Regions from separate parts of the Homo sapiens genome. Here region 2 is linked to region 1. The links come from fine-mapping of genetic effects on gene expression. Tissue or cell type: whole blood. Region 1 holds a variant in brackets; the other region holds the start of a gene. All regions are shown on one strand. Distances are between the middles of the regions.

What was found. PIP is the estimated chance that this variant, and not a neighbour inherited with it, causes the effect.
Region 2: it holds the start of SH3PXD2B, and the variant in region 1 is fine-mapped to the expression of SH3PXD2B in whole blood (TOPMed, PIP 0.99).

What each region holds. Positions count from the first base shown.
Region 1 is chr5:172,410,812-172,415,957 of GRCh38, reverse strand. The region is part of intron 2 of SH3PXD2B (SH3 and PX domains 2B); the gene reads left to right. Among named protein-coding and RNA genes, the nearest start is that of SH3PXD2B, 41 kb to the left of the region's middle. RefSeq lists an enhancer at 2,756-3,257. The variant T/C (reference allele first, on the strand shown) is at 2,911.
Region 2 is chr5:172,452,268-172,457,413 of GRCh38, reverse strand. SH3PXD2B (SH3 and PX domains 2B) reads left to right here and starts at 2,889. Exons shown (of 13, transcript NM_001017995.3): 1 at 2,889-3,136. The coding sequence starts at 3,062. RefSeq lists an enhancer at 3,402-3,923.

The DNA.
Region 1 (5,146 bases):
TTACTTGACATCTGACCACACGTCTCATTCACCTGAGGGTGCAGGAAATGGGATAGAGCCCTGGGCTTGAAATAAGAATACCTGGTGTCGGGTCCTTCCCTCTGTCTTACCAGCTGTGCGGCCTTGGGATGGTCACCCAGCCTCTCTGATTCTCCCTTTCTGCCCTGGCTTGGGACTACTCTGGGGAGTCCATCAGTGTGGCAAAGGAAATTGGCATCCAGGCAGAGCACTGGGGATGACTGGAGTGCCCAGAGAGCTGAGGGTAGTGCCTAGCAGAAATGTGGCTGGGTTGAGCCACATAGTAACAATATCGGCAGTCACTAACTGGAATGTGCCAGATGCCCATCTTATATGCCATCTCATTCTGTCCTCACAGGCATGAGGTCAGTATTGTATCCATTTCACAGATGGGGAAACTGAAGCTCAGAAAGACAGAGTCACATGCCCAGAAAGCAGCATGGCTGGGATTCAAGCCCAGGTGTGGCTGGATCTGAAACTTGCACTCCTAACCTCCCTGCCTCCTTGGGCCCCGGGATTGCCTTTCAATCTGCCTATTGAAAGATAGATTTACCCACATAGAGTCCTGCCTATGGCTGCCCCTTTTTAAGGCCCATTTGGCTCCTCCCTCTAAGATACAGGCAGAGTCTATCCACAGAGGGCAGTTCTGACCAAAACATGAGCCCCTCTACACTGTACCGTGCAACCTTTGTCTTCTGAGTTCCCACTGGTTCATTGTGTCCCCCAGGCCAAGGGTCATGGTCATCACTGGAGCCAGGGCTTCCCTCACAGAAGGCGCAGTTAAACATTTGCTAACCTAGACCTCGAGCTGCCACAAGGGACCCAGATGGATCTCTGCTTTCCATAAGCTTCCAGTGTAGTGGGAATAGGCACATGTTCTTTCAGATAGAGAGAAATCCAGGTGTTCACAGAGGGACCTCCCTCCTAGCCAGGGAGCTCAGACAGGGCTCACTTGCTGGAGGAGGTGACATCTGAGCAGGGTCTTGACAATGAATAAGGAGTGGCCCCTCCACCGAATGGGGGAGGGCATTGCATGCAGAGGACACCTCATGTGCAAAGGTGCAGAGGTGCAATGGAGCAGGAGTCTTAGCTGGGCATCTTCCAGAATTCCAACATTGGCAGGGGGGCACAGAACCAGCTGAGTCACTCTGCCCGTGAAGGAGCCCTCGGGAGAAATGCCAGCCTCATCTGTAAGAAGGAACACTCCCTACGGGGAAGTTCATGCTGCAGAGATCCAGAGAAGCTTTTCTGGCTCCTCTCCTGCTCCGCACGCTGTGCCAGAGCGTTGCTGCTAGGCTCAGGGGCTTACGGCTCGAGCAGTTCTTGGACGCCTCAAATCACAGGTGGAGGCTGCATCTCCATCTATGCCTTTGTCTCTCCAGAGACTGTCCCAAGTCATGCAGCAAAAACCGCTTGTTTCCAGTTTCCATTGAGCTAGGACTGACCCATCCCCTTCTTTTTTTTTTTTTTTTTTTTTTTTTTTAAGATGGAGTCTCGCTCTGGAGTGCAGTGGCGCGATCTCGGCTCACGGCCACCTCCGCTTCCCGGGTTCAAACGATTCCCCCACCTCAGCCTCCGGAGTAGCTGGGATTACAGGCACGCGCTACCATGCCCGGCTAATTTTTGTATTTTTAGTAGAGATGGGGTTTTGCCGTGTTGGTCAGGCCAGTATTGAACTCCTGGCCTCAAGCAATCCACCCGCCTCAGCCTCCCAAAGTGCTGGGATTACAGGCGTGAGCCACTGCGCCCGGCCTTGACCTGTCTCCTTCTAAGACCCTGGTCCTTCCACCTCGGCCCTCTTGGGAGTTTAACAGCCCCAAGTGTACTTTTTAAGACTATCTGCCCATAAGCCCCCATGCTCCACTGCAGAGGCCAAAGGGAAGGGAGGGTTTTCTTCCAGCTTTTCTGAGGACAGGTCTAGGGGATGGCAGAACTGAAGAGTTTTCACTCCCTAGGCAGGCATTGCCTGGCCGGGAAGCCTTCCCAGCAAGATCCCAGCCAACATCTGGCCCAAGACTCCACCAACCATATTTATCCAAATACTGCCTTTACTCCATCCTCAGACACACTTTTTCTCCCAGACATTATCTTCTGGAATTGGAGTATGCCTCCAACGTGTTGTGCATACTTAAATGGAATAGTTTTCCCTTCCCACTAAAAGCTATTACCATATGGAAGGTGTGTCACTGGGAAAATACCGTAGTTGCCTTTTTCCACACAGTTAGCAATTCTTTATTTCTAAAATAGAAAGAGGCATGATTATCTTGGGCAGTTGCAGCTAAACTCAGGTCCAGGCCCTGTTGCTGCCACCTGGTATGTAATTTTTCCTTTCCCAGAGAGTGGCTGACCAAACCAGTTAACCACTTTTTCTCATTTGTTTTTTCATTCATTCATTCATTCATTTACTCATTTGTTCTTTGCACAAATATCTAACAGGTGCTTACCGTGTACCAGTGAGGAGGTAGTGGGGCAGAAGAGAGGGCCAACAGTAGTAAGGGGGTTGAACTGAGAAAATACAGGCCTGGACTTAGGGGGAGCAGTAAGTATGGAGAGAAGCGGACAGACCGGAGGTGGTGGCAGCCTCCGTGCAGCACGTCCATCAGGACACCAGACACATTGATATTTAGACCAGCTCGTGGAGGGGCCAGAATCCTCAAAGACAACAAACCACAGATGGTAGACTAGGCCCAGGGACACCGTTGTGTTCAGGGCCCTGAAAGCCCTGCCCCAGGACCTTGTGGCTTTCTGCCAGCCTGCAGCTGCGCATGATGGCCCCAGGCCTTTCTCCACTTCCTGCTCCGGCTCCGCTGGGACTTGGGGGTTTTGTGATATTGAGGGGGTAAACCCCTCCCAAGTCCAGCCTCAATGGCTGCTGCTAACGCAAACCACGTG[T/C]GGTGGCCAGCTTCCATGGCGTGTTCTTTGGACAGCGTGTCTCGCATTCCCTCTACCGCAAGCTGATGTCTTGAAAACTGCTGATGGAGTGTTCTCTCTTTCTTCTTGGAAGCCTGTGATGTGGCAACTTGATGTGACTCCTTCTCCCTTCCTACTCCCCAAATGACTCATCTTCCTCTTCAGTTTCCAGTCCTCCTCACCCTGAGCGCCACTTCTTTTGTTATCTGGGGGGAGCGCGGGTAGTGGGTTTTCTCATTACCAAGGATGACATGGGTTAGGCTTTGAGGAGCATGCCTCTGCTCCTGCTGCTGCAGACAGCCTGGGCCTGGTCCCTTGGAGAACCTACTTCAAGGCCTTTGGATGCCTAGTGTTACAGTTCTCTGCATAGATGCAATTGGTGGCCGTAAACCTGGACACACCAAGACCAGCTCGGCAAGGAAAGCTTGCAGGGCTCTAATCCCCCAGCATCTTATCCTGAGTCCTAGTCTTTGCAACTAGCAAACTCACAGATGGCCGTTGACATTGGACACAGTGATGAAGAAAACGAAATAAAATTGGATGTGGTTTAAATAGGAGGATATTGTGATAGTCCAGCCCTGCACTGTCCGGGATGGCAGCTGCTCGTCACATGAGGGTATTTAAATGTAAATTCAAGTCAATTAAAGAAAATTTTTAAATTGAGCTCCTGAGTTGCAGGAGCAGCATTTCACCTGCTCAATAGCTACCAGGAGGCTAGTGGCCACTGGATTGGACAGCAAGATGTAGAACACCTCCATGATGGCAGAAAGTGCCAGCAGACAGCCCTGCTACAGCCACGGGGCCACCCGGGCAGTCCTGAGGGGTTTTTTGCCAACCTTAAAACACAGCCTCACAATCAAATATTATTCAGCCTTAAAAAAGAAGGAAATTCTGCCACATGCTATAAAATGGATGGAGCTTGAGGACCTTATGCTAAGTGAAATATGCCAGTCCCAAAAGGGCAAGTACTGTGTCATCCACTTATTGGAGGTAGCTACAGCAGTCAGATTCATAGAGGCAGAAAGCAGAGTAGTGGTTGCCAGGGCCCAGGGGGAGGGAGAGGGGGGAGTCACAGTTTCAGTTTTGGATGATGAAGAGGTTCCAGAGATGGATGGTGGTGATGTTTACACAACATTGTGAATGTGCTGAATGCCACTGAACTGTACACCCAAGTGTGGTTGAAATGGTAAATCTTCTCTTGTGTATATTTAACACGATTAAAAAAAAAAAACCACACAGCCTTACAGACTACTAAAAGTTATCCCCAAATAACTTTCAAAATAACATATTCAATATGGGCAGAGTGTAAGGAGCGGGGATTTCTTGCTGAGCATCTGGTGTGCTCCCCAGAGTTTCCACATAGCACTCATTTACCCAGCCCCGCCGCGGAGCAGGCTGCGTCCCTCATCCTGCAGACGGCCAAACAGGCTCAGGGATGAAGTGTCTGGCCAAAGACACACAGCTGGCATGAGGAAGCATCAGGATTGAACCCCAGGGCTGTTGGGTCCCCAGCAGTCATGTCTGTGGTTAGACTATGCAGTATTTAAACCCAGATCTGCCACCTCCAACAAATAAAACAAAGGGAGGCCTTTCAGCTCCTTGGGCCATGCTGATCTGGGTAAAATCAAGTCAGGACAAAGGGCAAGAGAGCAGCTTCTTAAGACCAGGCAGTAGAGACCCCTCTGAGGACTGAAAAACACAGCAGTGGCAGGGACTCATTGGCTGACATGTACATTCAGGCAGGGACTCCAAAGGAACCCGGAGATTGGAAATAGTCATGTTAGGGTGGACAGATTACTGGTGCATTCTTTAAAAAAAAAAAAGTTCCCTTTAATGGTGTTTCATTGTCTTAACAAATAAAATTGAGAAGGGAAAAAGTAGATAGTGTTAGGCAAAAACCTATAAATCTCTAACATACTCCACAGCTGAGACTGATTAATGGCTCTGCTTTCGAAAAGAAAGCATGCTGTTCACATGTGCACAGAATATTAAACTTACCTCATCTCAGGCTGACTTTTGTGTTCACGTGACACTCTGAAGCTGCCTCAAAGAGTGGTCTTAGGCAAAAAGAATGGAATTTAGACAAAGATGCATGGACTGGCTGGACACACCACTTAGCTGTGTGACTTCAGGCAAGTTCACTGCCCTCTCTGCTTCTCAGTTACCTCATCTGTGACAAGGGGAATGTAACATTTATGTCACAGAGTTACTGTCAAGG
Region 2 (5,146 bases), 41 kb before region 1:
GGAACCTTTGTGCATTGCTGAGGGAATGCGAAATGCCACAGCCCCTGTGGAAGACAGTTTAGGGGCTCCTCAAAAAAAAATTAAACATAGAAGTATCACATGATCCAGCAATTCCATTTCTTGGTATATGCACAAAAGAATTGAAACCAGGGACTTGAACAGATATTTTTATACCAATGTTCACAGCAGCATTATTCAGAATAGCCAAAAGATGAAAACAACCCAAGTGACTGTTGACAGATGAATGGATAAAGAAAAAGTGCTATATACATATAATGGAATATTATTCAGCCATAAAAAGGAAATTCTGACACATGCTACAACATGGATGAGCTTTGAGGACATTATGCCGAGTGAAATAAGCCAGACACAAAAAGACAAACATTGTGTGTTTCCACTCATATGAAGTACCTAGCATAGTCAAACTCATAGAGATGGAAAGTAGAACAATGGTTGCCAAGGCCTGGAGGAGGTTGGGGGGCAGTGGGGGGGGACTCAGTGTTTAATAGGGACAGAGCTCCAGTTTAGGAAGATGAGAAAGTTCTGGAGAGGGATGGTGGTGACAGTTGCACAACAATGTGAGTGTACTTAATGCCACTCAACTGTATGCTTTAAACATGGTTGAAATGTTAAATTTTATGTTATGTATTTTTTACTACAATAAAAAAGTAAAACAAAGGAAAGATACGTAAAGATGCAGGGATAGCATCTTCTGCTACTGGTGGTTGTGGGGGGACCTTTGTCTTCCCCAGACAGAGGAGACGGACACAGCCAGCAGGACCCACCTCTGCCACCCATGGTGTGGCTGGGGGCAGGTCTCTCTGCCTCTCCGGAAAAACCCAGGAAGCTGGCTGATTCAGAGAGGGCCTCTAGCTTCTGCCTTCTTAGGAAGGCTTGGCTCCTAATAAGGCAATGCACGATGTGGCAGGGACGGAAAAGCAGACCTTCACTTCTTTGGACATTTCCAATGAGGCCTCAGGACCCTCTGGCTTGGGACTGTACTTCAGAAGAATGTGCCTTACAGGAATTACATGAGTGAGGGTCCTGGCACCGAACAGATGCCACCCTCAAGCTGGGTCCATGAAGACAGTTTAGTAAAGGGTCAATGTATACGGGTGTGGGCGGGGCTAAGGAAGCACCGAGGATGGCGTAGTACCCAGGGCTTGCAACAGCAAGACTGTCACTGTCCTGAGCAGAAAAGTGGCTTCAGGAACCCTGAGAGAGACCATGTGAGAAAGGGCACCTTTGGTAAAAACAATCGGGGAGGAGGGGCTTAGGGATTAAATACCCAGACCTCCCTCTCTCCTCTTGCCCTCAATCTCCTGCCAGGCCCTTCCACTGGCCAAGCCAAACAGGAAGACCAGGACAGAGAGCTGTCAGTGAAATCCACACAGGCCAGCCTCTGGGGCTGGAGCAGGATGGTAAAGTCTGGCAAGGAAGTCAGAGGAGCAAATGGAGGGGCGGATCCAAAGTGAATCAGCCCAAATCATCCACGTGGCCTGGCCGAGGCTGAGAGCCGTCCTACCCTGGATAAGCCCACCCTTTTCCAAAGGCTGATCCTGGACCGGGGTGGGAAGTAGCTCTGTCGTGGCATGGAGAAGAGTCGTACGGTTTGTTGAAAAGAGCCCCCACTTACTGGCTGTGAAAACACTGGCCAGGAGCCTAAACCTCCCATCCATGCATTATATATTCATTTATCCATTCATTCAGCCAACATCTCCTGAAAGTGACTCAGTGCCCAGCCAGTGCTAGGAGGCACTAGATGAAGAAACGAGGAGCTGCCCCAGCCACGGCAGCTTCAACGTGTGAGATCCACCTAGAGCCAGGCAGTGACGGGCTCCATCCACCGGCTCCCTGACTCTGGACCTTCACTGATGTAATTCCTGTAAGGCACATTCTTCTGAAGTACAGTTCCCAAGTCAGAGGGTCCTCAGGCCTCATTGGAAATGTCCAAATGTCTGGAGGCCGTCCTCTGTAAAAACACCTTTTCCTCCTAGAGTCTGCCTGAGGATGCAAAGACAGCATTTGTGAAAAGCAGGGGCCACGGGGCCCAGCGAGCAGTTAAGTGCTCCGCAACTGGAAATCGATGGCCTTGCTAACAAGCACCCAGCTGCCCCTCACACATAGTCACCACCCTTTTATCCCCTTTTGTTGCTTCCATGGCAATTACATTGCACGTATGCGCATTTGTTGCAGTTTTTCTCTCCCTCACTCCCCATGTCCCAGACTGAGGCTGGGGGAACCTGGTCACGGGTCTCTTGCTCCTCCTGAATCACCAGGGCTTGGGGTGGCTTTAGGAACGCCAGCACTCATACCATGGACTGCACTGCGGAATGGCTTCACATGCACTTAATCCCGGGCGCAGCACCGGCAGGCAGGCGGTACTACTGACACGTGCTACAACATGGATGAGCCTTGAGGACATTATGCCGAGTGAAATAAGCCAGACACAAAAAGACAAACATGGTGCTTGTACTACTAGGCTCATATTATAGACGAAGAGACCCAACCCAGAGAGGTTAAGCAACTTGCCGAGGGCACAGAGTGGAAAAGCGGCAAAGCCGGGATTCGAACCCGGGTGTCCGGCTCTCCAAACTGGCGGTGGATGGCGGCTGCCGGAGCGAGAGTGCTGGAATGAATCGATACGTCAATCAGTGAACGGGCGACGGGGTCAGTCCAGTCCCCTCCCCCGGCGCGGCGGCTCAGCACCGGGACAAAGGCCGGGCGGGGGCCGGACGTGGCCGGCGGGGTTCGCGCGCGGTGGGCGGGGGTCGGGGCCGGGCCCTTTAAGGGGGGCGGGCCGGCGGCGCGGGGGGCGGTGCGGGGGGCGGTGCGGGGGGCGGTGCGGGGGGCGGGCCGGGGGCGGGCGGCGGCGGCTGGGCCCGGCTGGAGTGCGCGCCGAGCGAAGGGCGGCGGCGGTGGCGGCGGCGGCTCGTGCTCGGCCCCGGCTGCGATTGCGCTCAGCTCCAGGTTCCCTGCCCGCGGCGGCGCGCCCCCAGCGCTCCCTGCACCCCGCGCCACCCGCACCCGCGCTCGGCCCGCTGCGGGCGGAGGAGCGGCCATGCCGCCGCGGCGCAGCATCGTGGAGGTGAAGGTGCTAGACGTGCAGAAGCGGCGGGTGCCCAACAAGCATTATGTGAGTGCGGCGCGGCCCCCACGCCCCCTTGAGCCCGCGCCCCGTCGGGGGCGACCGAGGGCCCCCGGCTTGGAAAACTTCTGCCTCCAGCGCTTCCCGTCCCCTCCTCCCCTGCTCTCCCCTCGGCTCTGCGGCGGCGCTGCCCGGGTCCCTCCCGACTCCTCCTCCCTCCCTCCCCTCCCCTCCCCGCTTTTGCCTCGTTCTCCCCCTCCATCCCTTCCTCCCGCCTCGCCCCCCTACTCGCCTCCCTGCGGCTCCTCTACCCCTTTCTGTCTTCTCCGTGTCCCCCCAACTCCCGTCCTGCTCATCTGTGGAAAAGTCTGGCTCCAGCCGGTGAGGGGTCTGAGACAGAAAGCGGGAGAGACAGAAGTGCCTGTTCTCAGGCCGCCCGCCTTGCCCCTCCTTGTCCAGAGGCGCGCAGACCCGCAGTCCCCAGCCACAGGTAGCCCCTCTAGGGTTCGCCGAATTTGACTCCGTTCTTTGGCAAGAGCCGGCCTGGGCGATGGAGGAGATCTCTGGGAATGGATCATTTGAGTGGCTACGCCTTTAAAGGGTTAAAAACATCCCCTGCCCCCTCTCTCCAGTAACTTCTGTTTTAAAATGTACGAAAGTTTTCTCCTGGCATCTCCCTCTGGAACATGGGAATCTTGTTTGGAGCTGGCAAGGACTTGAGAAAATGGGACAGTAGCGTCGTTTTGCAGATAGGAAGGCTGAGGCTCAGAGGTTGCAGGTCCTGGAACATAGAGCTGCATTCGGGCTTCCCTCCCTCCAGCAGGGGTGCCTGGGGCTGACGGTGACCTGCAGGTGGAAAGTGGCTTCCGCAGCAACCTAGGGGACACGTCTGCAGATTCAGGAGGCCCTGGGACCACCTCGCAGGTTCTAGGTGGAGATAAAGGGGATGTGGGGTGATGGGCCCACATGAGGCCTTGGGGAGGGCCTCATTACAGCAGGGAAGGGGGCTATAGTGTCTCTGGCGGTGAGAAGTGGGCAGTGGCGGAGCCTGGCTGCAGAGAAGTTAACCAGGAAGGGAAAAAGAGTAAGAGGGAGGGAAAAAATCCTAACAAAGAAGTATAGAACAATGAATAGAAAAGGGCGTTGGCTGGCTAAATTAAGCTCCTTGGCCTCCCTGGAAGTCGTCTTCAGATCTTTTTTTTTTAAGAACTAATTCTTACAAAGTAGATCTGCATGCCTTCCGTGAATAGCCTGTGAAATTCTGAAAGGAGATAGCCGGGAACCCACTCCGCGCTCTCCACAAGAAAGGGTGTGCTGTGTGAGTCTGTATTGTTATTGGCTGGGCAGCCAGTTATTCAGCCCTTAGCCAGGCGGTGGGAAGCTATTTCCTGGACCTGTGGCATCTTTATATAGAGTGAAGTTTCCCTTGATTCCAGAGCTGAGCTAAATTGTCTTTTTTTTTTCCTTCCTTTTTTTATTTTTTGTTAACTGTTTTCAAATGCTGCCAAATCTTAGTTTCTTGTTTGAGCCTGTTAGCGTGTAAGTGAGTTTGCCTCTTTGGCATGAAGACAGTTTTCACCAACATGGCAACTGGAGGAAGTCTGGAATTCTCCATGCCACCTCCCACCAGGTCTGTGAGCTGGCAAAAACGAGAATAGATACTGCCACCGAGGCCCGGCCATCATCGTCCACGCGCCCTCTTCTGGCCTCTCCTATCACGCCCATATCAGGCAGAGGGCCTTAAGCCCATTTGACAGATGAGGAAACCAGGGCTCAGCAAAGTGAGGTCCCACGCCTAAGGTCACAGTCAAGAGCCAAGCAGGGATGTAGATCCAGGCCCGCTGGACCCCAAAAGGACCACACCACTTCCCACATCCGGTACCCCTATAGTTTCTCTGAGCAAAGTCCTCTGAAAAACTGGGAAATCTCTCTTATCATTAGTGAAAACCTGGAAGCTTTTCATTCTCTGCTGTGTCAGCTCCATCCTTGCCAGTTTTTTGAAGGTTTTGCGCTTTGAGAACCGTCTTTTGAAGCTTTCAGCCACTTTTTGGGGGCCCC